2 separate regions of the Homo sapiens genome follow, and region 2 is linked to region 1. A link means that fine-mapping ties the variant in region 1 to the plasma level of a protein whose gene starts in the linked region. Region 1 holds a variant in brackets. A gene starts in the other region. All regions are shown on their reverse strands.

Region 1 (2,917 bases):
AAGTTTAAATCAAATGATATCCTCAAGTAGTCTTTCAATTTCACTTACTCACCTGCTGTGTGCCCCCAGTGCCTTCCTCCCAAATCATAAGTCAACCGGCCATGTCCTTTTTGGGTTCATGTAGAACTACACAAGACCAACTGACTTATGATTTTACCTCTATGCACTCACTGCTGTGGAAAAGCAGGTGCATTATAAAACACACGGCTTACGGATTATATATAAGCTATTCATGGGTTCCTGATAAGTTTTTAAAAGTTTTCATGCTCCTTAAAAAGGTGTGCTTGGATCTAAAGACAAATTTGTTTGCCTTAATTTATTTTATATTGATAAACTGAAAATACGGTGGTAACTGATATCCTTTAAATCACGTTCTAAAATGAAGCTTTTTGAATATAAATAGAATAACTGAAAAGAAACAAAATGTGTTTTGTGGTTCCCTCTAGAGTGGAGAACTGAGTTGCAGAAGGCAAAAGAGGAAGGGAGAGTTTTTGCTAAATGACTTTGTACTTTAAATTTTTTTAACTGTATATATATTTTCTATGCCAAAATTAATTAATTAAATTTCCAATGATAATATAAAAGAATGAAGCAGTCTGGTTATGAGTACTAGTTCCTACATTACCTCACTGGATTACCTGGGCAACTCAACTTTATGGGCCTCAGGTTTCCTCATGTACTAAATGACTACAATGGCTCCTTTCTAGTGCAATTGTTTTATAACTTATATGTTCAGTAATTACTGAAACAATGTTTTCCAAATAGCTTAACTCTATTAAACAATGCAACTGTACTCAAGACTATACTTAGAGGCTCTTAGCCTTAGCACATGCATCTATGCATCAATATTTAGTAAATTTCCATGAGACTGACTACCAATCTTCAAATTTACTGTGACACTTAAGAATCCAAAATGTCACTGAACAGTTTATAATGGAATAGTTTAAAAAATTTAGTTACTAAAATAAATGCTTGTTAACTCTCAATTCTAAACATTTGAAAGTAATAGCCAAATGTTCCAAGTGCAAAATAAAAATAATATACATTATCATATATTAATATAAAAGCCTAGAGGATAGGCATTATACTTTCTCCTCTCTATCAGGATTATTAGTGGCTTCTATTATATAAAACATGAACGTGAAAATAACCTTTGTCTCTTAGCTTATTTCAACACTGTCAAGTAGTACTTTAAAAAATAACATTTTCTAAAAGCAATATATGTTTCACTGTAAAAAAATTTAAGAAATATGGACAAGGAAAGACAAAAAAATCTCATAATTCTACCATCCAAAGGTAACCAATGCTAATATCCTGGTATAAATATATAGGCACCATCTATAAAATATACACTTGCAGAATGGAGAACTGATATATTCTGTTTTATAATCTTTTCTTACTTAACATATTTGAACTTTCCCCAAGTTATTAAATAGCAGTCTACAGTGAATCATAATTTTTCTCTACTACTAAGTATAAGAGTAAAAAAAAATCTGTTAGAAAATCATTAGTGACCACCAGCATGTGAGCTGATGGCTGTTATCAGACTTTTATCCCTACTACTTGAAAGCTGGTTTAGGAGCAAGGCCCCTCTTAACACCAGCTAACTCCCCCTTCAAAATAAAAGGCATGGCATTTCTGAAAGGTTTCTGAT[C/G]CCAGAGTTAAAGATCCTGCTAACATAAAATAAAATTCCATTACAGATATTACCATTCCCTTCAGGCTCTTCTGGGTTGCTTTCTAGCTTGTCTTAGAAAAATAAGAAAGTGTATTAAGGTGTGGCTTTGTTCTGTCACTTGTTGGCTTGGTCTCATTTGTGTGTTTTAGTATTGAAATTGTCTTAAAACTGTAGAGCACCCAGATAGATGTCATTCTGGTAGGCGCTATATAAACTGTGAAATAAATATATTTACAGGTTCTAACTGGAAGGCAAAACAAACTAAAATGAAAGGAAAAATAATGATGCTGTAGTTGTTACATACACATGTTGTTTAACACAGGTTTGGAACCTGCTTTATAAGGTGCACTTTAAATTACAGGCTATAAGGTAAGATTAAAAAATACAAACTGGACTGGTATAGAAAAAACACGTTATTAATATTGATTACAGTCGATTTTTAAGGTTAAAAAGCAGTGCTTTAATTTTAAAAAAGAAATCTGCAACAGGTGGTGAGTGACTTGCAATTAGTAAAAACTTCTGGCAGAAACATACCATGTAGTAATCACAATGATCTTGGCTTGTGAGATGCTACTTAACCTTTTGCAAAAAATAATGAAGCAGTATGATGCTACCGAAGTTTATAAGAAAGGTCATTATCAAGGCTAAACAGGTCCAATAATATATTCTCTTGGAACATGCAAGTACAGGCTTGTCTGTACCCAATCAAAACCACTGGTAGCTTATTTCATACACATTATACTTTGCAGTTTTCCTTGACTTGCATTTTTTTTTTTCAAATCAACACACCTCAATCCTTTAAAACAAAACACTTCACTTTGATGAAGATTACAGATGAGTGACTGCCCCAAAATTAAGCATTTAAAAGTATAAAGTTATCAAAGTGTAACCAAGGCTTAACCATGGTTAACTGTCAAAGCCACAACTCCCCAAAGACAACCTCATGACAGAGCAAGGTTTCAGAAGGGAGCAGCAATAGCTACTATAATGTCTTTGTTTTATGTATTCTACTTAACCAAACATGGTATTTCTGTCCTTTTAATTAATCTTTAGAGTAGTAATTAACTAGATAGACACAGACTGTGGTGCGTTTAAAAACACATTTAAAATAATTTTTGCAGAAAATAAAGATTTGTATAAAAACACCATGGCATGTGAATGATACAAAGAAAACAATCACTCAAGAGGATATTAAGTGTCTGAATACCAGTAACTGCAATTAATGGTAATTGACTATCACAA
Region 2 (2,917 bases), not on the chromosome of region 1:
AGGATAATTGCTTGAACCCGGGAGGCAGAGGTTGCAGTGAACCGAGATCATGCCACTGCACTCCAGCCTGGGCCATAGAGCAAGACTCTGTCTCAAAAAAAAAAAAAAAAAAAAAAAAAAGAGAAGGGTGGATGAGGGGGGAGCATGAGCTGGATGAATGTCAGTGAGAGATAATGAGGGACAGGTGACAGAGGCAGGTGAGAGGGAGAGGGGGTCAGTGTTGGGAACAGACAGGGAGAAGTGGAGCAGGACGAAAGGCACAGGTGGGCGACAGACTGGAGACATTTGGGAGAGAAATGAAGAGTGAGAGTGGAAGTGACAGGGACAGGTGAGCGAGCTAGGGAAGTGGGGCCGATGGGAGATGATAAAAGGGACCCAGGGGAAGGACAGAGTCAAGAGAGCAGTTTTGAAGTGGCAGGGGCACAGGACAGGTGAGGAGAGGTCCAAGAGAGTGAAGGACAAGGGAAACAAAGAAGGCTAAGGGGCCACTTAAGAAGAGGGGGGAGAGGGTCAAGGGAAGGGTGAAGGGGGCCTGACTTTCAGCTCACCTGGAGAAGCCTCAGGTCCCAATTCCCGGGGAAGACAGGAGAGCTGCAACTCCAGTTTTTCAGCTTGAGTGACTCTTCCTAGAGAGCAAGGGCAGGGGTTAGCCCACAGCAGGATGGCTGGAAGCTAGCTCATAGCAGCAAGGATGAAGTTGGCCTGACAGCATGGGTTTAACCCAGTGCAGAAAGGATAGAGGTTTGCCATAGTTGGAAGGCTAGAGGCTAGCCCACAGTAGAAGGGCAGTAATTGGGACACCCGTAGAAGTGGTTCATCCACAGCAACAGGAACTCACCAAGGCGTCCCTGGCCTTCTTGAAGCTCGCTAGCTCCTGTGGTGACAGAGATTTGAACCTGCCAATGTGGCAGCCCTTCCCAGTTGTGGTGGGCTTGGAAGTGGGGACAGGGCCTGCCACGGCCAAGCCTAGCACCAAAGTCACCAGCACCACGGTCCAAGCTGCAGCCATGGCTAAATCGCAACTGCTTCCCCAGCGGCATGGCTCTGCTTTTTAGCCACGCAAAATGGGCAATCCAAGATGATGTGTGTAAAGTGAAAAGGTAATTGGAAATGAGAATTTCCACTTTGACTTAAGAGGCATGAGTGGGCGGGGCCCGTCTGGGAGCCTGATGAGGGAACAGGTGTGGGCAGGGCCAAGTGAGCTGGGAGCTGCATCAAGAAGGAAAGAGAAACTGAAATCCTTAGAACTCCCTGGGCAGCTTTCAGCCAACTGGCCTCAGGGAGTCCCTGACGGAGGCTGAGATTAGGGATAAGGCTACCTGAGTGGCAGAGAGGAAGCTTCTTTTTTATTCTAAATTAGCCAGGTGTGGTGGCATGCGCCTGTGGTCTCAGCTACTCAGGAGGCCGAGGCATGAGAATCACTTGAACCCGGGAGGCGGAGGTTGCAGTGAGCCAAGATCGTGCCACTGCACTCCAGCCTGGGTGATGGAGTGAGATCCTGTTTCAAAAAAAAAAAAGCTTGTTTTTTATTTTATTGTTATTATTATTTTTTGAGACGTAGTTTTGCTCTTGTTGCCCAGGCTGGAGTGCAATGGTGCAATCTTGGCTCACTGCAACTTCTGCCTCCCGAGTTGAAGCGATTCTCCTGCCTCAGCCTCCTAAGTAGTTGGGATTACAGGTGCATGCCATCACGCCTGGCTAGTTTTTGTATTTTTAGTAGAGACTGGGTTTTACTATGTTGGTCACGCTGGCTTCGAACTCCTGACTTCAGATGATCTGCCTGCCTTGGCCTCCCAAAGTGCTGGGATTACAGGCGTGAGCCACCACCTTACTTTATTATTTATTTATTTATTTTTGTAGAGATAGGGGTCTCACTATGTTGCCCAGGCCAGTCTTGAACTCCTGGCCTTAAGCCATCCTCCTGCTTCAGCCTCGCAAAGTGCTAGTATTAAAGGCATGAGCCACTGCTCCTGGCCAAGAAGGAGCTTCTGCCATTGGTTTAAGAATGTCCCATTAACTAATTTCAGTTCATGCTCCTAATGTTTCTCTGAGTAGTTATTTTTATAATTGTGATGGTTAATTTTAGGTGTCACCTTGACTGGTTAAGTTTATCAGATAGCTGGTGATGCGTTAATTCTGGGTATGACTCTGGGGTGTTTCCAGAAGAGATTGGCATTTGAATCAATGGACTGAGTAAGGAAGACCCGTTGTTACCCAATGTGGTGGGCACCATCCAATTGGCCGAGGGCCTGAATAGAACAAAAAGGCAGAGGAAAGGAGAATTTGCTCTCTCTTATGAGCTGGGACACCCTGCACCTGCCCTTAAACATCAGAACTCCAGGCTCTTTGGTCTTTGAATGCTGGGATGTGCAGCTGGGCATGGTGGCTCACGCCTGTAATCCCAGCAGTTTGGGAGGCTGAGGCAGGTGAATCACTTGAGGTCAGGAGTTCGAGACCAGCCTGGCCAACATGGTGAAACCCCATCTCTACTAAAAATATAAAAATCAGCCAGGCGTGGTGGCACAGGCCTGTAGTCCCAGCTACTTGGGAGGCTGAGGCAGGAGTATCGCTTGAACCCTGGAGGCGGAGGCTGCAGTGAGCTGAGATCATGTCACTGCACTCCAGCCTGGTCAACAGAGTGAGACTCCATCTCAGAAAAAAAAAAAATGCTGGGACTTGCACTAGCTACCCCCTAAGTCCTGAGGCTTTTATTCTGGAACTGAGCTGCACTACAAGCTTCCCTGGTTCTCCAGCTTGCAGATGGCCTGTTGTGGAACTTCTTAGCCTCCCTAATTGTCTGAGCCAATTCCCCTAATAAATCCCCTCCTATCTCTCTCTCATCTATCTAGTCTCTCTCTCTCTCTCTCTCTCTCTCTCTCTCTATCTAGTCTATCTCTCTCATCTATCTAGTCTATAT

Which allele goes with the higher level. Positions count from the first base shown, and alleles are read on the strand shown. Strength reflects both the effect of a copy and how common the allele is.
For the plasma level of the protein whose gene starts at base 1,024 in region 2, G is the low allele of the variant in region 1 and C is the other (weak association).

The links. PIP is the posterior inclusion probability: the model's chance that the variant is causal. Protein levels are from antibody-based Olink assays in UK Biobank. Linkage for the fine-mapping came from a reference panel and not from the study's own genotypes, which makes the PIPs less certain.
Region 2: it holds the start of IFNL1, and the variant in region 1 is fine-mapped to the plasma level of the IFNL1 protein (UK Biobank, PIP 0.98).

The regions. Positions count from the first base shown.
Region 1 is chr2:161,386,096-161,389,012 of GRCh38, reverse strand. All of the region lies in intron 8 of PSMD14 (proteasome 26S subunit, non-ATPase 14), which reads right to left. Among named protein-coding and RNA genes, the nearest start is that of TBR1, 29 kb to the left of the region's middle. The variant C/G (reference allele first, on the strand shown) is at 1,655.
Region 2 is chr19:39,294,514-39,297,430 of GRCh38, reverse strand. IFNL1 (interferon lambda 1) reads right to left here and starts at 1,024. Exons shown (of 5, transcript NM_172140.2): 1 at 839-1,024; 2 at 549-626. The coding sequence starts at 1,009.